Homo sapiens: one gene and its partners. The protein of the gene in region 3 interacts with the protein of the main gene of each other region in a pairwise test. Each region holds a gene or a part of one and is shown on either strand. Other genes may lie near its edges.

What was found.
Region 1: the proteins of SHISAL1 (region 3) and GYPC interact in binary tests that used the Homo sapiens proteins (3 or more experiments, as listed by UniProt).
Region 2: the proteins of SHISAL1 (region 3) and CYB561A3 interact in binary tests that used the Homo sapiens proteins (3 or more experiments, as listed by UniProt).

Annotation. Positions count from the first base shown.
Region 1 is NC_000002.12:126,652,145-126,660,162, reverse strand, and holds the start of GYPC (glycophorin-C), read right to left. Parts: upstream 4,006-8,018; 5' UTR 3,900-4,005; coding exon 3,851-3,899; intron 1-3,850. UniProt on the Homo sapiens protein: This protein is a minor sialoglycoprotein in human erythrocyte membranes. The blood group Gerbich antigens and receptors for Plasmodium falciparum merozoites are most likely located within the extracellular domain.
Region 2 is NC_000011.10:61,347,300-61,351,905, reverse strand, and holds the end of CYB561A3 (lysosomal membrane ascorbate-dependent ferrireductase CYB561A3), read left to right. Parts: intron 1-758; coding exon 759-915; intron 916-1,483; coding exon 1,484-1,507; 3' UTR 1,508-2,262; coding exon of another isoform or gene 2,263-2,349; 3' UTR 2,350-3,101; downstream 3,102-4,606. Other genes in the region: TKFC (triokinase/FMN cyclase), read right to left, coding at 3,699-3,881. UniProt on the Homo sapiens protein: Transmembrane reductase that uses ascorbate as an electron donor in the cytoplasm and transfers electrons across membranes to reduce iron cations Fe(3+) into Fe(2+) in the lumen of the late endosome and lysosome.
Region 3 is NC_000022.11:44,309,291-44,318,209, forward strand, and holds the start of SHISAL1 (protein shisa-like-1 precursor), read right to left. Parts: upstream 3,662-8,919; 5' UTR 3,461-3,661; intron 1-3,460.

The sequences.
Region 1 (8,018 bases), on a different chromosome or scaffold from region 3:
ACAGCAGCAGGCCCTGCCTGGCACATACAAGCTGTGGGCCCACATACCCTGCAACTCTCTCCTTGGGTTGGCCTCAGTTGCCTGTGGGGTCTGGCAGTTTGTAACTACAGCCTGGCTGCGCCCTCAGTGTCTGGGTGCCCTATGGCGGCTTATCTCCCCCGAGCCTCTGGTGTTTCATCCGAAAGTCTCTACAAAAAATACAAAAATTAGCTGGGTGTGGTGGCGTATGCCGGTAGTCCTAGCTACTTGGGAGGTTGAGGCAGAGAATCTCTTCAACGCAGGAGGTGGAGGAGGTGGAGGGTGCAATGACCTGAGATCACACCACTGCACTCCAGCCAGAGTGACAGAGCACGAGACTCTGTCTCAAAAAAAAAAAAAAAAAGAAAAGAAAGAAAAAGAAAAGAAAATGCCTATCATAGCAGGTGTGCAGGGGAGACCCAGGAAAGCCCCTTACCAGGGCTCGGCATCTAAGTTTGTTGTTATTTTATCAAAAGCGAAAAACAACAGCTGTCTGGAGGGTGACTCCTGAAATTACCAGCATCCTCAGGCCAGGTTTGCTCCAATAAATTTCGCTAACAAAAGCCACCTCCCAAGCCTCTGCCACTGGGAGCAGGTCCAGGCCCTTCTGCTGTTGCTCTTCGGGTGACTCTGGGGAAGTGGCTGTTATCATTCCCACTCACAGATGGGAAAACTGAGGTGCTGAGGTATTTCCTCTCTCTCCCAAAGCTGGTGAACATTGGAGGGCAGTCAAACCCAGGGCTGACTCCACAGCACGGATGTTGCTCTGGCCTCTGCTCTGCCCCTCACTCGTCATGTGATGAGGACATGTCCTTTCACTTCTGGGGCACGTTTCCTCACGGGGGTGGGGTGCTGACAGGAAATGGACAAAAGCATCAACCGACACTTCCCCGAAAAGTAATACAACCTCTTATGGAAGTAAGAAAACATGCTCAGTCTCACTTAATTACAGAGGCTCATTCCAAAGTGACAGCGTTTGTTTTGTTGTTTTACCTCTCAGTTTGGCCAAGATAAAAAATGCAGTGTGAGTGAGGACGCAGGGAAATAGTGACTTTCATAGGCTATTTGTGAGCATGAGAAACCGGTGTGACCTTTAGGAGGGTAGTTTCTTAAGATCTACTAACATTTTAAATGAATACACACTTTGTCCCAGAAATCAAATGCTGAGGTGGGAGAATTTATCCTAACAGTTTACAGACACATGCATGTAAAATCCTCCTTACTCATTGTCACAGGACTGCTGTGTGTGGTTTAAAAAAATTAAATGAAGTCTGCATACAGCCTAAATGCCCATCAGCAGAGGAACTGATTAAAGAAAATAACAAGGTATAACCTTTAAGAGATATTCTGATGGAAAAAAAACAAGATGAAGTAAAATATATAAAATGCATTTTTATTATGTAAAATAAGAAATATTTGTATCAGCAAATTTACTTCTAGAAGGATTATCCTCAATAAATAAAGTAATTGCCATTGAGGTAGGGAGAAGGTGTCTTTCTCCTATTTTTAACTCTTCATTCACTGTTAACTTTACTGTTTGTTTGGTTTTGTATTTAGAGCGTGCTTGTTGGCCCACTGGGTATGCTCAGTTACTGGAAGATGTTTTGGCTGTGGCCTCAGACAGGCACTTGAGGCATAGATGTACATACAGGTCTGCCACCTGAAGAGGCAAACTGACTTGACTTGGCCCAACCTCTCACCTCTGTTGAGGGGACCTCTTCCTACTCACTGCAGATGGGTTCACTTGTTCCCACCACAAGCGCAGAATGCCTTGTACTTCACAACCCTTTGCTCCCCAGGGAGCTCTGCAAGTCCCCAGAAATACTTGCCCAACCACGGGCACCCTTGGAAGGGTCCAGCTGCTGACCACCAGCATCATGTGACTCCCAGTGCCAGTGACATCTGGAGGAATTGAGCAATGGCTGAGGTGGAATTTCATTTGGCACTTAATGCAATCCTCTGCTTCTGCCAGAGGCGGTGAATTCTATATAAAGCTGCCAAACCTGGCCGTCTTCTCACTGAGCCTTGACCCCTTCCATCCAAGGGCAAGGCAATGGATTGCTGTGCATGACTCACGCGCAGTAACTGTGGCATTGGGGCCTAGCCCAGCTGAGCTGAGCAGAGCAGGCCGGCCTGGCGGAAGTGGGTCCTCTCCGCTCTAACCTCTGGCTCTGATGAGCAGCTACATAAACTGAGACAGGATATAGACACATCCTGCCTGAGTTAGCAGCAAGAAATAGCCGCCCCCCACCCCCCCTGCAGTTCTCGCACAGCAGGGATCCTGCCATAAATCAATCCGAAGTCTAATGTGGAATGGCTTGCAAGCAAGGGCTGCACCGCTGTTTGTCTCCCAAGGCAAGTGTTGAAGGTCTGAAACCTGAGTCCTGGAGAACTGCTTGGGCTGCTGGGCTGGGCTGGGCACGGGGGCGGGGGTCAGGCAAGCCCATCCTCTTCAGACATGAGAATGCCTCTCAGCCTCACCTCCTCAGTGACTGAATTGGAATAATGACAGTGGCTCCTGTCCCTTTAACCCAGGACCTGCCGTATACACACACATAAACATATGCTCAAGTTACGTGCTCCGGGAACCACAGTCTCATGTGCAATTATATAAACATGCCCAGCACGGATCCAGCACTTAGGATGTGTCAGACTCCGTGCCGGGACATTTATACGCACTTCGTGCTGCTGGATGAGTTATCTCCTGTTATTATTCCTACTTTCCTACTTTGCAGATGAGGAAACTGGAGCTAAGAGAGGCTGCCTTGTTTATAGGCAGTGCAGATGATCCCAGTGCAGACTGAGGGGCCTCGCTCCCAAGCACCACTGATGCCTGCGCACTCCCAGGCTGACGCAAGCACAACCACAGGCACATGGAGTGCCGTGTACACACGTAGACCGAAGCAGCACTCCTCCACGCCAAGCTCCAAGCTCAGGCGGGGTGAGGGGTGAGGCCTCACAACCCCCTGGATTTCAAAGACTTATAAAAGAGTTGGTGTCTCCAATACCCATATCATTATCATATCAATAAGGTATCATTGTCACATGATAGGCTCAGGGTATCTCCTCTCTGACAGACTCTAAGAATCAGACCGCGGCAGGGTGGGGGTAAGAGGGATGTACATTACGTTTTTTGGTAAAATCAAATGGTAGTTTTTATTGCAAAAGTCCAACGGCAGAGGAAGAGGGCAGAGAGAGGCCCAGCAATGTTTCCAAGCATCTACAAAGACTTTCATCACAGATGATTTCCTCTCAGCAAGAAAACGTGATGGTTTAAAAGAGAAAACCAGCAGCGAGGAATTACAAATCCCCAAAGGATCCAGGCCGCAGGATTCCCTCGCATCTGTGTGCCTTTGCGGCGCCCAGCGGAGCGAGCAAGTCCCTGGGCAAGGCTGGAGTTGCCTGGAGTTCACCGGAGCCTGGCCGGTCGGACCCTGGCTGGGGAGCAGCACAGAAGCAACTTGTGATGTGAACTCTCACCTAACTGTTCTTTAGGGAGACAATTCTGGCCCCACACATTTCACATGCCCCGCACAAAGAAACAGAAAGCGGGCGACACGCCCTGGGAGGGCGGGCTGGCGGCTTCTCCAGCTCGGAGCGCGTGGAGGCTGCGCGTAGGGGTCCGGGACGCGGGACAGGGACTCCGCGCAGCCCAGGCGCCGGGGAACCGGGGCTGGAGTCGGGGATCTGAGCCCAGCGGACGCCTCCTCCGCCTGGAGGCCCGGCACGGACCGGGACACCAGGGCGTCCGTGGCCGTGGCTCGGCCCCTGGCTGCTGCGGGCCGCGGCCTCCAGTGGGTCCCCAGGACCCTTCCCCACGGCGGGTACTCACCGAGGCTGAGAGGCCACGCCGTGCTGTTGGGGCTTCTCGTCGACCACATTCCTGGGCGTCAGCCCGGGCAGAGACCGCGGGGACTGGCCAGGCCGGGCCAGGCCGGGCCGGGGGAGGGTCGCGCTCCCGGGCTCCTGACCCTCGGCGGCGAGAGGAAGCGGCACCTGGGTCACACTCCTCCCGCGCGGGCCGAGGGGAGGGGCTCTGGCCCGGAGATAGGCAGACTTCATTTATTTTTTTTCTGCAGACTTGGCTGGTGGGGTTTCCACCCCCTTTTTTTTTTTTAAACACACACCCGCCCACTTCTGAACTCTTCTTTGCTCCAACTTTCCTGCGCAAGAACCACGCTTTTCTAACCGTTTCTCTTTCCATCTGCCACTACCGGATACAGAGGTTGTGGTTGAGAATTCCCCCTGGAGTGCAGGGAAAACTCCCCAATGTGACATGATGGCCTGGCCCAGCACTGTCGGGGATGGTGACCAAATAGGGCAGACCTGTGTTGAAATCTTGGCTGGCTGCGCGGCCGCTGGATAGCTGGGCGGCCTCTCTCAGCTGCGGGGCATTTGTCCCTGGAGAGAGTCCCTGTCTTGTTGGCCTTTGGGGGCCCTGTACTCATGGATGGGCTGTTGAGCAAAGATCATTCCAAAACAGGAAGAATTGCTGGACAAGAGTCGTGATTTGTTCCCATTGCTTTTGTCTGAAGCTGCCAGACACAGTGCAGTTTGTGAATTCGCTCTACTTTTGCCATGAAAATCTCCACGTGGATTTCGATACATACCTTTGTTGGTTAAATGCAGTCAAATGGCACCACCTACAAAAAATGTATCATAGCATTATCTGCCCCTTCTGCCCAGAGACAAGGGCAGGGAACTTGAGGCCCTTGTTTTAAATCCCCACCCAGGGGAACACCCTGTGCTTCTCCTGTGTGATGTCTGAACCTTCCTGTGCTGCTTTTCATTGTTTACTTTATAGTTCCCCAAGCACTTTTGTGACGCCCACCTCTCCCCTACCTTCTGCCATTAAGGCCTATCCTGCACAATCCGGAGAGCCAGGCCAGCTGTCTGTACAATGTATGGGCGGTGCCTTTGGGACTGTCATCTGCATTGAATACAATGAGAGGCTGCGCCCTGGAGATTTGCAACACAGAGGCTTTGCTCACCTCTAGCCGGGCTGCACAAACTCCAGGCCTTCTTGACGCAGTGGGAAAGCACTCATGATTCACTTTAGTTAGATCATGAAGAACCCCCGATGCTGATAGATCTTTACTCCAACTGCCATGTGCAGCACAGCCATGTTGAATTGAAATAAACTACTCACAGAATGCCTTTGGCCTGGTGGGGAAGCCCTGAGTCTTGATTTCCTCATCTATAAAATGGAGGCAAGAACACCTGCATTCCGGGGTTTTACAGAGGCAGTGATTGTAGAATCACAGTGGGAACAGAAAAGGCATTTAATAAACAGCAATGAGTAATGATTAATTTATTTTTATTTATTTATTTATTTATTTTTCTGAGACGGAGTTTTTGCTCTTGTTGCCCAGGCTGGAGTCCAACGGCGTGATCTCGGCTCACCACAACCTCCGCCTCCTGGGTTCAAGCAATTCTCCTGCCTCAACCTCTCGAGTAGCTGGGATTACCAGCATGTGCCTCCACGCCTGGCTAATTTTGTATTTTTAGTAGAGACGGGGTTTCTCCATGTTGGTCAGGCTGGTCTCGAACTCCCGACCTCAGGTGATCCACCCACCTTGGCCTTCCAAAGTGCTGGGATTACAGGCGTGAGCCACTGCACCCGTGATTACTTTAACAGTTTAACTTTTTTTTTTGGTAATACATACACATACGTCTACGTGGAACAGTAGTCCCGCTCCTCTGTCCTGAGAGAAAATAACTTTAATTATCTGAAATGCAGCTGGAAAGTTGGAAAGAAGCAGAAAGTTCTGCCAGGTAACAACGGACAAGTCATTAGGTCATTGCAGCACACTTAGAGAAGTCACTTTTACAGACTCATTTAGAACCTACTGGCCTTAGACGTAATCATAAGAGATTTCCTTAATTTCTTAGGGTAAGACAGGTTGAAGGCATCAAAATGTTGCAGAGAATTCCTTACAGAAAATAAGCCAAAAATTAATAAACTAACGAACTAAACAGTGAAAATTGAAAGCCCCACAAACTGCAGAGGTCAGATACAAGAACGAAGTAGCATTTGTTACAGAACTAAAGCAATCTCAGCTCCAGCCATCACTGGAGGATGTGACAGTTCCTTGCGCTATTAAAGACCACAGGGCTTTGGAACTCAATCTGGGTTAGTTACTCTACTGCCTACTAGCTGCGTAACCTTCAGCATTTCACTTTCTTTCTCTGAGCCTCATTTTTCTCAGCCTGGAAATTGGAGCAATCTGCAAAGTTAGGCTGTTGTGAGTAATATATTCGATAATAATTAAAGAGGTAATTACAATGAGAGTACACTGGAGTTACTTAAAGATATTGGCCCCCTTCCTCCTCTAACACATACTTTGTTCATAGTAAGGACCCCAAGTCATTTGAAAAAGAAAGTAAATAGTGTGTCTTAGTGTGTAGCAAATTAGCTAACAGGGAAACATTTGACATATTTTAGAAAATTTAACTATGAAAGTGTCTAATGTTAAATAAATGACTCTTAAGAAGGGAAAATAATTATGTGAAAAATTTAATTATATGGTAACAGTCTGACATAAGTCAAGAAATGTATTATTAGTGTGTCTTCATGTGTTGGATATTTATTAATGAAGTTAAAAAAAAAACTCAGCTATATCTTGCAATAATAAACCAGTTCTTATCTTGTCTAGTTCCCATAAATACTCTTAAACGGAGTATTGCCAAGAGTCCATTGTAAAGATGAGAACCCAGAAGTTCAGCACAGTGACAAGAACTTGCTCTGCAGTGCAGCCGGGATGGACGGTTCTAGCTGTGTCTTCATTGACTGTCTGTGGCTGATACAAGCTGCAGAGCCCTCCAAGATGTGAGATGGTATGATCCAGTCCTGGAGATGAATTTTCTCTTCCTCTTCAGGGAAGAAACTGCTCATGGGAAACTGCCTTCCAAATCCTCAGTGCTAGTTCCTTATTGGGAGTGGAGTTGGCGGTCCCCTGCTGCTGTTGCTGTCTCCTGGGTGAGCCCTTACAGATGGTGGTAGGTAGATGTTGCTTGGGCCTTTAATGAAAGGTTTTGCCCCTCATCACAGTAACACATGCTCTTTGTGCAAAAAGAAAAAATAAAAAAGAAAAAGCCAAAAAGATACCTAAACCCTAAGAATTGCTTGCAATCTCCAGCACATTAAGGTTATTTACCTTTAGTCTTTTTTATGCATTTACGAATATTTGCTTTATACTCTTGAGATTTTACTGAATACGTGATTTCAAGTGCTGAGCTTTTACTACTAAACATTATGTCATGAGCATTTTCTCATGTAAAAGTAGAAAAGCTCTTTAACTCATTTTAATTACTAGGTTGTTTCATTTTCTTTGCTGGTTGAATAGTGCTGTGATAACCATATGAACATAAATATCTGGATTTCATAATTTTTTCCTTAGGGTATATTCTGACAAGCAGAATTACTCAATCAAAGGTTACAAATGCATTTAAAGCTTTTGATACATTCATAAGTTCTGGCTGTGACCTTTACTTTCTTCCCAATCAAGAGTACCAGTGTTTATCTCAGAGTCTCTTGCCAGAATTAAACAGCAAACTTAAAATCATAGTTAATTCCATAGAAAAGAAACATACATAGTTATTTGTGTCAGCATTTTCTTTGATTACCAGAGAGGCCGAATATGCTGTCAGTTGCTTATTTACAAATCACAGCTTCTTTTAGGTGAATATTTTGTTCACACTGTTTCCTCATTTGGAGGTGTGATGGTTAATACTGAGTGTCAACTTGATTGGATTGAAGGATACAAAGTATTAATCCTGGGTATGTCTATGAGAGTGTTGCCAAAAGAGATTAACATTTGGGTCAGTGGGCTGGGGAAGGCAGATCCACCCTTAATCTAGTGGGCACCATCTAACCAGCTTCCAGGGAATATAGAGCAGGCAGAAAAACATGAAAAGGAGGGATGGGTCTGGCCTCCCAGCCTACATCTTTCACCCGTGCTGGATGCTTTCTGCCCTGGAACATCAGACTCCAAGTTCTT
Region 2 (4,606 bases), on a different chromosome or scaffold from region 3:
ATCTCACTCTGTTGCCTAGGTTGGAGAGCAATGGTGTGACCATAGCTCACTGCAGCATCAAACTCCTGCACTCAAGCGATCTTCCCAATGTAGCCTCCTAAGTAAGCTAGGACTACAGGCATGGACCACCTCACCTAGCTAAGTTTTATTTTTGTAGAGACAGGATCTCACTATGTTGCACAGGCTAGTCTCCAACTCCTGGGGTAAAGCAATCCTCATGCCTTGGCCTCCCAAAGTGCTGGGATTACAAGAGTGAGCCGCTGCACCTGGCTCATTATACAAATATTTGCAGGGACTTAGAAAGGGTGTTAAAATTCAGCCGGGCGCAGTGGCTCACGCCTGTAATCCCAGCACTTTGGGAGGCCGAGGCGGGCGGATCATGAGGTCAGGAGATCGAGACCATCCTGGCTAACATGGTGAAACCCTGTCTCTACTAAAAATACAAAAAATTAGCCAGGCGTGGTGGCAGGCACCTGCAGTCCCAGCTACTTGGGAGGCTGAGGCAGGAGAATGGCGTGAACCCAGGAGGCGGAGCTTGCAGTGAGCCGAGATCGTGCCACTGCACTCCAGCCCGGGTGACAGAGCAAGACTCTGCCTCAAAAAAAAAAAAAAAAAAAAAAAGAAAGGGTGTTAAAATTCTAGATCACATATGGACCCGGGAAGGTTTTCTCACCCTCTGTTAGTGACATCGAGTCTCCCACTAGACAAAAATAGGTGGAAAAATCTCTCGAGGGCTCACATTGTTTTGTCATCTTCAGGAAAAACACCACCAGGCCATACCACAGCCTGCCCAGTGAGGCGGTCTTTGCCAACAGCACCGGGATGCTGGTGGTGGCCTTTGGGCTGCTGGTGCTCTACATCCTTCTGGCTTCATCTTGGAAGCGCCCAGAGCCGGGGATCCTGACCGACAGACAGGTATGGGTTCCAGTCCCACATTCCAGGGTGGGACAGGGCCAGGTCTAGAGAAGGATCTCCCACGAAAGGCTGGGGCCTTGACAAGAAGACTTACCCTGTGGCACAGCAGGAAACCAAGTAACTTGAGGGTGGAGTTAGGGTGGCTGATGGGGAGCACTGGTCCCAAACCAGCGCATCCCAGTGAAATGCTGGGACTCCCCAGTCTGTCCATTGGGAGACAGAATTTCCCCCCCAAATCACTGTGGTTCTGTGGGGTGAAGTGTGGCCTTATCTTCTTCCCCAAGGAAGGGCTTGACTGTGACAAGGGTGTGTGATTTCTCCTTTACCAGCCTGGGGGCTAGTCTAGTGGGATGGGTGCCTGGTGACCAGCTGAGTGCTCAGAGCAGGTCTTGATGGGATGTAGGGAGACGGGGTGTGTACCAGGCTCAGGGACTTTGGGGCTTCCCTGAGGGATTTGGTGGCTTGGATGGGGACCACCCTGCAGGCTGGGGGTCTGTCTGAACAGCTTGGGCCTGGTGTGACTCCTGCATCATGTCATTAACTCCTGGGCATCTGCCTCTCTTTCCAGCCCCTGCTGCATGATGGGGAGTGAAGCAGCAGGAAGGGGCTCCCAAGAGCTCCTGGTGGTGCAGCCTGTGCTCCCCTCAGAAGCTCTGCTCTTCCCAGGGCTCCCGGCTGGTTTCAGCAGGCGACTTTCTTCCAATGCTGGGCCCAGACTTCTTGCCTGGGTGCTGGCCTGCCCTCTCCGGCCGCTTGCTGCCTGTCTGCTTTCCTTGGTGGCTTTGCCTGGGTGCTGGGCCTGCCCTCTCCGGCCGCTTGCTGCCTGTCTGCTTTCCTTGGTGGCTTTGCCTGGGTGCTGGGCCTGCCTTCTCTGGCTGCTTGCTGCCTGTCTGCTTTCCTTGGTGGCTTTGGCTTCTGCACTCCTTGGCGTCAGCCTCTCAGGTCCTCCATTCACACGAGGTCCTCCTCGCTCTGGCCGCTCTTGCTGCTCCTGTCTGAAGAAATCAGACTGATTTCCTCTTAAGACTCCTAGGGATGTGGTGAAGAGCTGGGACTCAAGTGCAGTCCACGGTGTGAAACATGAGGGAGGTGAGGTGTCCGTCCACTTCCCCCATAAAGGTGTGCATTTCAGTTAGGCTGCCCCGCCACAGAGCAGGCTTCATCTGCTCTGCCATCCAGCCCCATCTGGATGTGAGGTGGGGTGGAGACATCATGGGGTGATTGCAGAAAGGGGGAGTGGCGGCCCACGCAGCTTCTGCTGAGGAGCTGACCGCTCTGAGCTGTTCTGTTTCGTATTGCTGCTCTGTGTCTGCATGTATTGTGACCGTGCGGCTCCACCTCTTCCAGCTGCTGCTACAGCTGAGGCCTGGATCCCGGCCTTTCCCTGTGACTTACGTGTCTGTCACCGGCAGGCAGCCCTACAAATCCTGGTGACCTGCTCTCCCAAGAACAGAGCCTGTCCCCAGATGTCCCAGTAGCGATGAGTAACAGAGGTGGCTGTGGACTTCCTCTACTTCTCCTTGCTGGATCAGGGCCTTCCTGCCTCCCGCTGGGCAGGTCTGGCCTTGCTCTCTTGGCAGGGCCCCAGCCCCTCTGACCACTCTGCAGCTCACCATGCAGCTGATGCCAAAGTTGTGGTGTCCAGTGTGCAGCAGCCCTGGGAGCCACTGCCACCTTCAGAGGGGTTCCTTGCTGAGACCCACATTGCTTCACCTGGCCCCACCATGGCTGCTTGCCTGGCCCAACCTAGCGTTCTGTGCCATGCTAGAGCTTGAGCTGTTGCTCTTCTTCAGGGGAGGAAATAGGGTGGAGAGCGGGAAGGGTCTTGCTCCTAAGTGTTGCTGCTGTGGCTTTTTTGCCTTCTCCAAAGACGCACTGCCAGGTCCCAAGCTTCAGACTGCTGTGCTTAGTAAGCAAGTGAGAAGCCTGGGGTTTGGAGCCCACCTACTCTCTGGCAGCATCAGCATCCTACTCCTGGCAACATCAGGCCAACGTCCACCCCAGCCTCACATTGCCAGATGTTGGCAGAAGGGCTAATATTGACCGTCTTGACTGGCTGGAGCCTTCAAAGCCACTGGGATGTCCTCCAGGCACCTGGGTCCCATGACCAGCTCCCCATCTCCATAGGGGTAGGCATTTCACTGGTTTATGAAGCTCGAGTTTCATTAAATATGTTAAGAATCAAAGCTGTCTTTGTTCAGGCTGCTATAACAAAAATATAATAGCCTGGGTGGCTTAAACAACAAGTGTTTATTTCTCACAGTTCTGGAGGCTATAGACATCCAAGATGAAGGCGCTGGCAAATGTGGTGTGTGGCAAGGGCCAGCTTCCTCAGAGACCATCTTCTCACCATAACCTCACATGGTGGAAAGGGCGTGAGAGCTCTCTGGGGCTCCACCCTCATAACCCCATCACCTCCCAAAGGCCCCACGTCCTAACACTACCATAGTGGGGGTGAGCCTTTCAACACAGGAATTTGGGGGGGACACAAACATTCAGTCTCTAATAACAGCCCTCTAATGAAATGATGCTGTGGTTAAATGAGTTCTGGGCCAATTTGTAAAAGCCTCAGGACAGGTCTGACCCTCACAGACCTAGGGAGGGGCCAACCGGAAGGCACCAAAGATCCACATGATCCTCTGTCTTCATGGAATGGCATGTGTGGATTCACATGCAGCTCATTTATGTGCGTGTCCTTAATAGCTAATGGCACGTGCTTATCTCACGAGGAAGGAAATTTTTCCTATTTCATAATCTGAGAAAACAAGACTCAAAAAGGGTGACTAGGTTGAGGTCACCCAGCCAGGAAATGACAGAGCTGGGATCCACAGGCCACCGTCTGAGGTCAGCCTCCTTCCCAGCTGCTGGGCGCATACTCCTGTGCACGTGGATGCCTTGTGGTCAGGGACGTATGGTGCAGCCGACAGACAGGACCCTGGGTAGAGAAGCCCAGGCACTCGGGGAGCCTGCAGCCAAATTTGGGCCAAGTAGGTGACGGGGGTTGGGAGGGCAGGAGGCTCTTTCCTACCAGCTAGTGGTAGAGCAGATGACCTGGGAGGGGCTGGGGGCCCAACCCCTGTGATAACCGTAACTCTCAGTGAGTGAGCACTTGGACTGTGCTGGGCTTTATGGCCCATCTTCATCAATTCATTTGAATCCTTTCATGTCCCCATGAGGTGGGTACCATTCTGATTTTACAGATCCCAAAGGGCTAAAAAATAGGCCTTAGCTCCTGTAGCCGGGTTAAAGCAGAATCAGATTTCAGATCATGTGTATGAGTCGACAGCCAGTGCCTTTAACCACTCCCTACCCTACATGTGTGCCAGGCATGTGCTGTTTGTCTCCACATGCATACAGTGCCCCTGCTCACCCTGGTGCCATCAGTGATCGCTCTAGAAAGAGACCTAGGGGCTGGCTTGGCTGCAGTTTCTTTTTTTTTTTTTTTTTTTTTTGAGACAGGGTCTCGCTTTGTTGCCCAGGCTGGAGTATAGTGGCATGCTTATGGCTCACCGCAGCCTCGACCTCCTGGGCCCAAGCCATCCTCCCAACTCAGCCTCCCAAGTTAGGACTATAGGCACACACTACTATGCCTGGCTAATTTTGTATTTTTTGGTAGAGACAGGGTTTTACCATGTTGCCCAGACTGGTCTTGAACTCCTGAGTGTAAGGGATCCGCCTGCCTTGGCCTCCC
Region 3 (8,919 bases):
AGTAATTCTATGTGGGCACGATGATTAGCAGTGGTAGCATTAGCACGGATTAGTAATTCAACAGGGCAGGGCTCTCTGGAGCCCCACCAACAGTCCTGCGGGTAGGCAGCGGCCCAGCAGAAGGGCAGGAAGTACAGACGAGGAGACGGGCTAGCAGCTGCAGATCACCCGAGCCCAGGGCAGAGCACGGTGCCCAATGCTCCCCATTCCTCACCCGTTCCCTTCCCACCCAGCCCTATGCTGCACCCTCAGTCTCTCTGTTACACAGATGGAGAATGTGGGGCTCGGAGAGGGGACTCAAACCCCGGGGTCTGCTCCTGTGCCCTGTCTCCACGACTCATAAGAGTGTTTACCCCTGCAGGCAGCACTTGTGTGCATGCCTGTCTCCACACAGCACACACATGTACACACGTGTGCACATATGTATCATCAGGGATGTTTAACCTCCACAAGTTTCCCAGTCTCCAGGGCCTTTCCTCGGCAGTGCAGACCTAATCCTGAGTTTGTGAACTTTTGTTTTCAGGACATCCACTTAGAGGTTATGAAATCTCACTCTGAAACGTGAAGTCCAGGAATAAACACTTCTCGAGGCTCCACGCCTGCATATGAAGTGAGATCAAAGCATGTCTTTGTGACCCCTTCATGCTTGCAGGGGGAAGCGGCAGGAGAGAACTAGGACATCTTTCCTCGCTGTGCTGGCCAGGACCGAGGCAGCCAGAGTGTATGGCTGGAGAAGGACAGAGAAGCAGCCCGTTCGCCTGCAGCTGGGGTGCCGGGCTCCACGGCTGACAGTGAGTGAGAAGGGCCAGCACCTCACACCCTAGTAACGGCCAATGTGACCTGAGCCCTGCTGACCTGATGCCTAGCCCTGCAGCGGTCACATCCCCGAACCCAGCCCTGCTGAGACCATTTCGTTTTTGCTCATCTCTATGGGCAGCACAGGCCTGACACGTAGTAGGCACTTTATAAACATGTGTTAATTGGTTGAATGAACATAAGCAATGATCATCTCCATTGCTGAGATAAATAAACCACAGCTCAGAGAAACTAAGTGATTGCCCAGAGCTGGAGGGTGGAAGGTTTGCAATCTGAACCCAGGTTTGCTCGACTCCAGACAGGGTGCTGGGGGCGACCACATAGGCTTTGCAGCGAGTCTCCTTGGCCTTGGATCAGAGCTTTATCACTAACTAGCTGGGTGATCTAGGGCAAGTTACTTCACGGGCTTCAGCTTCCTCATCTGTGAAACGGGAGCCGTGCCCCACACCTTGCAGGTATACCAAACATAGAAAGGACCAGAAGCTAGCAGGGCACCCAGAACATTAGCAGCTGATCCATAAACCGTTCTTATCCGATGTTGCCTACTCTACTGTTCCCAAAGCTGATGGTTTAGGTACCAGAGAGGGTCCTGTGTGCCCCTTGGCAAATGAAATTGTGTTTGAACTCCATGTCTACGTCTGATTTCCCCAGTTCATCTTTCCGTGCTTTGCTTGTTCCTTTAGTTGGCACGGATTTCCCTCTGCCTTACCTGTTGGTTTACTGCTTCCCTGCCTAGTACAAGCTCTTCAAGGGTGGGAAATTTTGTGCCTCTGCATCGCCCCACCATGCTTTGCACACAGTAGGTGCTGAATAAATGTCTGCCGGCCATAGAGTAGGAACTCCATTAGCACTCGTTGGCCTGGTTTGTTTTATTGCAAAGAGCAAACTTCCAGATGGGAACAGCAGAGATCCAGGCAGGAGATCTCCTTCAACTGAGACATGGCCTCAACTTTTACGGCCACCACCGGGAGTGACCTTGGGCCATCAGCCCTGGGTGGAAGTCCCTTATTTTAGCCTAGAAACCCAACTCCAGGGCTCCAGTGGGACAGGTCCCCCTAAGTCCAGGGGAGCTGAGGTGGGCCGGCTCACACCCCCTGGGCCCTCACTGTCTCCCTACCAGGCGGGCATACCACTTGCTCCATGGGGCTGCTCTCAGGGTCAGGGCCACGAGGAGAAGCACACTGCCACGAAGGGTGCTGGCCTGGGTGCTGGAATTGGGAAGGCACGCAGGTGACCTCCAACGTGGAAACCTCTCCTATCTCCCCAGATCCCTCCCTCAGTGGATAACCATTCCAGTGTATCCCTAATAAGGCTCTTGTCCCTCACTGACACCTTTCCCTGCTGAATCCACCATGCCCCAGCCAGCTGGGCTCTGAGTCCAAGTTACAAACTCAGCTGTTTCAATGGTTCCCCCTTTTGAGCCCCTGGCCTGGGCCAGTTCTGCACCCATCAAAGTTCTCTGCATGTGCTACTGTCTCGAATGTTGGAAGTAGGCACCACTGTGATCCCATTTTACAGATGAGGAAGCTGAGGCCTGGGGAAAGGGGGACTTGAGCGAGAACACACAGCTGAAAGGGGCTTAGCTGGAAACCCCAACCCTGCTGAAGGCCCTAGATGCCCCACTGTCCTCCAGGGGGCCACACTGGGTCACAGGGCGAGGGGCTCAGGCCAGACTCAGTTTCCTCCCCTATTAAAGGGAGAGCTTGGCCGAGACAATCATGGGCCTTCTTCAGCTCAACAACCCTTTGTTTCTCTCTGTCCTCCTGAGTTATTTGGTTGCACCATGGAGATAAAACAACCCCTGGAAATCCCAGAGGCATTTTTTTCCCACTGGAGAAACACAAAAATATCACATGAAGAATGAATCACTTAAAGTGTCAGGGCAGGAAGAGGAAAGACAGGCATGGCGCTCGCCTCGGGGTGGGGGTGGCTCTGGGTTTCTCTTCAGCTCCCTCAGCCTCCCTGGTCCCCAGAACCCCTTCCTCACTGGAGTGAAGAGAAGCCAAAGCCCTAAGCCTCAGTTTCCCAATCTGTAAATGGGGACAACAAACCTGCCTTGAAGGCGTATTCGGAGGGGCCAATGCATTCATTTGTTCGTTCATTCATTCATTCATTCATCTATTCACTTATTTCGTACCGGTGTGATGCTGGACTGGGACTGCAGACTCTGAAGTGGGTCGAACAGACCCACCTCACCCCCGTGAAGCCAACCAAATGCCCTCCAGGCCATGACTAGGGCATCCTGAGAGCACTCCCTAGGCCATGCCGGACCCTCCCCCGAGCCTTTGGCCTTCTCTCCAACCCCTCTCTATGCAAGGCTCTTGACACAAGGACACTGAGGCACAGAGACGGTCAGCAACTTGCTCAAGGTCACACAGCAGGTAGGTAGTAGCACCAGCATCTGTGCACCCCCACAGGGCTCCCACCCCTCTAGATCAGAGCCTGCTCCCCATCTTGCCCCACTGGCATAGCCGTCACCCCGGCCCCTCCCATTCTTCTGTGACTAGGAGTCACTTAGCAGCCTTGCCTGGCTTCTCCCTTAGACCCAGTGCTTAGCCAGGGCAGGGACCCCAGGGTCAGCGTGAAGGAACAGAGGTGCCCCTGCACAGTGAGGACCTGGAAACCTCCACAGGCTGCTCCTTACCTGCCGAGCCCTGTGACTGAGGGATCAGAAGCCCCCTCCGCTGGCTGCGGTCTCCCTGCAGCTGCTGGCCTCTTCCCCGGCTCCTGGTTGCCACCAACCTTAAACCCCAATAAAAGGAGAGCAACTTGGTCGAGCCTTGTATAGGCAAAAGAGTGTTTTCCAGCGCAGGCTGGCCTCTGTGTGCTGACAAGAATTCAGTGTGCTCCTCAGGGCGGGGAGTGGGGCTAGGGCGCTGAGTCAGCCCTGCAGGAGTCCAGCTCCCGCCTGGGCCTAGGGCCGCCACCTCCCAGGCCCAGGATGGCAGCGGCTGCTCCCGCAGTCCCCACGCACTCCAGCCTCTGGTCTTACAGCCTTGTGCATCCTCAGAGCACCAGCAAGAGCCCCATTTTACAGGTGAGCAAACTAGAGACACTCCCTGTGAGATCCCACAGCTAGAAGCAGCAGGGGCTTAGACCCAGGGCACCGGGCTCCAGGTCCGCACCTCAGCAGATGCTTGGCACAATACATGTGGGTTCCCTCCCGTGGCCCTCAGTCTCTGTTGGGCAATGGAGGTCAGTGGCACCACTGCACAAGCCCCTCTGGCCAGCATGGCCCGGGGAGGGGTGTGGGTAAAACAAACGGTCCCCACACCAGCCCGGGGAGGAAGGGTAGCTGGGACCCGAGAGCCCACAGAGGGTGTGTGGCACCTGCCTGACTCCAAGCTGGGCTGATCTTCCTGCTGTTGCCCCCCTACCCCTGGCCTGTCCCCACCCAGCAGCAGAGGGTCCTCCCTGCCAGTAGGAATGGGGTGGGGATGGGGCAGGAACAGGGCGGGGGATGCCCACACCTGCCACTGTTCGAAACACATCAGTGGCTTCCATGACTGTCTGGACACAGCCCAGGGGCCTGGCTGGCCTCTGCAGCCACACTTCCTGGGTGCCAGGCACCCCCCCAGCCCATGGCCGTCTCCCACCCCTGGGCCTTCGTGCATCGTGGTACCTTGGCGGCGCCCTTGGCTGGCTTCTGGGTGGCATTTAAACGCAGCCATAAAGGAGGCCAGCCCTCCTCTGCCTCCCACCCATCCCTGGAAGCCTGCCCATCCTGAGCCAGGCCAGAAATAAACCTCCTTTTTCCATTCCTTTCGGTGGACAGAGAGCGAGTTCAGACTGGTCTGGGTGCCCCTCATCTAACCACGGTCCCAACAATGGCAGCCCAGAGCGATGGGTGCCACGATGGGAAACCAGGGGGCTATGGGCGCCCAGAGTGCCTGATGCAGCCTGACGGGGTAGGGGCCGGGAGTGGGGGTGGTATTTATTTAATCTTCATGATTAGGAGGGGCTGTGATTATCCCCAATTTACAGATGCGGAAACTGAGGTACAGAGTTTCAGTAACTCGTCCTGGGTCGCCTGGCTGGGGACTCAGACCAGGGGGTCTGGTGTGGACACCTGAAGGATGAGTCGGGCGGTGGGGCGGGGGTGGGGGTGGGGGAGTGTTCCTGGCAGAGGGAACAAGGCACACAAAGTTCCTCCTGCCTCTTGTCTGGGGCTCAGCATAGCAGCAGAGAAACAAAAGGGCTCTGAGCTTGGGGTTTGAACACGGGTTCAAGTCCCTTGCCGCTTCTCAGCTGTGTGATCCTGGGCATGTTTCTCTGTCTCTCTGAGCCTGGACTGCCCTGTGGATTTTGTTATAGTTCAAAGCAGACCTCCTGTGCACCAGATCTGGAACACCTATGACATAGAAAAGTATGGGTCCGCCAATGACATTTACTCCTTGCGATCCACCCTACGAGGCAGGAATTTTAAAAGTTCACCTTTGACAGAGGTTGGAAGCACAACAAAGACCAACCTGCCTGGCAGACCGGGGTGAGGGCTGCCTGGAGGGAAGGTGACCCCACCTCAGGGAGGCCACTGTGACCACATCCTCTTGCACAGTGGGTCTTTGCCTCAGCAACTGTGGGGGAGGAAAAGCACCAACATCCCCTCTCGGCCGAGGGGACCAGGCTCTAGAAAGCTCACAGCGGCGCTATGGAAAAACCTGGAGACAGCCCTGGAGACGGCCCAGTGGATGAATAGGAAAATGCATGGTGTTATGGCCAAACACCGGAACACTCTTCAGCTACCCAAATGCACTGCAGCCGCACAGAACATTACGGGGCATCTCAGCGCTATGAGGCTAGAGAGAAAGTAAAGTCTCCAAAGATGAAGTTCAGCACAGTACGCTTTCTAGAAGGCTAAAAAGAACTGTAAATAAAATGTTCTTTTTGAGAGTGCATCTGGCTATAGCAAGGCATACAGCGGGACGTGGGGTGAAGTGGGCCCTGCTTGGGAGCGCACAGGCTGACGTTCCTGCTCTCAGGCTGAGGGATGGGTCAAGGATGTTTCTTATATTATTAACAAACAAACAAGTAAATAAAGAAGTCTTGGCAAGGACTGCCGAGGGCGAATACCAGGAAGCAGGCAGAGACATGGGCCTGACTCCATGGCCTGGAGTCTGGAAAATAGAATAGAAAATCAAGGTTCAAAATATATGTAAAGAAAAATAATGATTACAGTACCCCCCAGCCCCCATCCATTGCACACAGGCCCACCCCTCTGGGCAGCTGAGACCCACACAGGGGCCTGGGTGGGGACTGCAGAAGCTGCTTTGGCCTGGCTGGGGGTCCCTGAGAAAGGAGCGTTTTTTTCCGGTTCACAGTCCCAGGCTGCTGGGTGTGGTGCCGGAACTGTCCAATTCCAGTAGGGAATCGGTGTGAATTCCCAGCCTCCTCCTACTGAGCCCACATACACCTCGTCCCTTTGAGACCCTCCCAGTTATAAACTCTCTGTGCCTCAGTTTCCCCATCTATAAACTGAGGACACCAGGCCATATAACATCCTCCTATATTTCCATGTTTGGAACTGAGCTGGTGGCCCCATGTCACCTGGGCCACAGAATCCCAATGCTGCTTCTTACGCTGTTGTTACCTGCCTGGCGGGTCACCTGCCTCGAGGAGGCTTGGTTTCTTCCTTTGTGGATGGTGCCATGCCTCCATCCTGGCCCCTCCAGGTCAAGGGGAGGATGACTGAGATGAAGAACACGCAGGGCCCTGCCTGAGCCACTGCTGGGGAGTTGCTGCCTCCTTCATAGGCTCACAGGCAGCAGTTCCCCGGCCTCAGGTGATTCCGCAATGGCAGGATGGGTCTCCATCCTGGCCCTCAAAGGATTCACAGTCCGGGGCAGGGAGGGGAGAGGCATTGCACAGTGTAAACCGCCCATATCGATGTGGAGCAGGGCAATGATAACCCCCCAGGGGCCAAGTGCTCTCTGCAGTGCCCGTGACAGACCTGGTCTCCCACACATCATGCTCCTGCAACAGGACATGTCATTCTGTGACTTGCCCAAGGTTACAAATAGCAGGCCCCCACGTGGAATCCAGATTTGGAGCAGACCAAGCCAGGGAACCCAGTTGGGACGTGGTGCACCCTGGGGAGAGGGACCTGGGTCAAGGATGCAGGATGTGGTGGGAATCGGCCAGATCTTACTAGCTTGGGACCTCGGACAAGTGAGTGACCACTCTGAGCCTCAGTTTCCCCAGCTATCTAATGGGAATGGTACCCAGGGTAGGCCAGGATGAACAGAGAGATCCCCGGAAGTGGCTGCACCAGGGCTGCACAGACCTGTTGGATCAGAACCAGGGTGGGGGGTGGGGGGGCAAAGGATTTGCATCTCTCCCAGCTTTCCAGGGTGTTCTGATGCCCACTCAAGGAAGAGCTGCTGGGCCAGCTTTGCAAGCCACCCAGTCTTTGTCCACTCTGCAGTTATAGACAAAAAAGAGCTGTAGAGAATCCTACATGAATGAGTGATGGTGTGTTCCAATAAAACTTTATTCACACAAACAGGCAGCCCCAGTTTGCAAACTTCTGGGTGAGATCATTGCTACCCCAAGCACAGCCCACAAACCAGCAACCCTGGCATCTCCCGGGAGCTGTTGGAAATGCAGGCTCTCGCGCCACCCTTCCGGCTGAATCAGAGGCTGCGCGCTAACCCATTCCCCAGCACCTGCAAGTCTGAGAAGACCTGGGCTGGAGCATGTGGCAGGTTCTCTGGGCAGCTACCTGGCCCTGCCACTTCCTTCTGAAGCAGATTATGGGGCGGGCAGGAGGGGGAGCTGGGGGTTGCTGCCTAGAGAGTTATAACAAACCAAAGCACCAACGCGGCTAATTGGCAGCAGCTGCTGTTTCAACCAGAGACTTGTCAGCTGTGATTAAGCGAAGTTGCCTTTAGGCCAATCAACTTCAAAATTATGCAAATAGAGCTGCAGTGGAGACCACAGGGATGGTGCTGAGCCAGCTCCCCAACCCCTGACCTGGCACGCTTAACCCCCCATCGTCGGCTGGAGGGCCCCTGTCCATCCTCACCACTCCCTGGACCAGTTCCACTTCTGGGGGTTAATGAGCCTCCCACCCACACTCTGTGTAATTGGCATGGAAGCTGCTGGGCGGGTGCGATTCAGCTCCGAGAGCCGGGCCAGGATGGAAGGACGTGCCTCTCGAATGGATCAGCTGCTGCACCGACGAGCAGGGCCCGGCCAGCCACACCGGCCCGCAGCAAGCCAGGCCTGTCCTTACTCGGGGCGGTCCGCGCCCAGGAGGACTCCCTGGCGGCAATGGCTGGACAGCGAGGGAAACAGGTGCTTTCAAAGGTGGTAGGAAGTGGCTCTCGGCTGCCTTCTTGAGCCCTTGCAAACCCTTGCTGGCCCCATCAGCTTTCCTAGGCCCAGATGTGAACAGACAACAGCCTCCTCCCACCTCATCTGCCTCCATGCCTGTGGCCCCAACACCCCAAACCTGCTGTGCCGCCAGGTGGACTTCTCAGCTGCCCTGGCCCTGTGGTCTCTGGTCTCAGGTTTGCTGCCTTGCTCTGTGGGCTGTTCCCATGGGGGCCGAACCCCCAGGAAGAATAAACCACTGGATGGTGCATTGTTGGGGAAGGCAAGGAGGGCAGACCCCCTGACACCAGACTTAGAACCCAGAACTGTGTCCGCTTCAGACACAGACTCCCCAAGTCCTCTCCGTCCTCCCCCGCAGCATAGCAAGCACCAGGCTCCACTTTCTGTTGAATCCTTCTCTGCTTAGTCGTCCCCAAACTAGAGATCTGTTCTGATACTGAGTTTGCACTTTGGAAGCAACAGGATGGCTAATGAACATGTCTGCCCTGTCTGCTGAGCACGGGGCCCTCTGACCTTCCCGAGCTGGGCTCTGCCACTGCAGCCTCCTGACACCAAGGGGCCTGAGAGGGAGCAGGGACCGAGGGGCAGAGAGAAGCCCCTCCAGGGGAAGGCCCCACATTCAGGCTGGCTGCCCCCCGACCCAGTCCAGCCCATCCAGGAGCCCACCGTGGGGGCGGGGAAGTCCAGGGCAGACAAGCCTCTATCCCGAGAGTCCTCTCTGCAGGCCCGATGCCATGCACCAGGCTTCAAGAGAAGGCCTCCTGCTTTCCA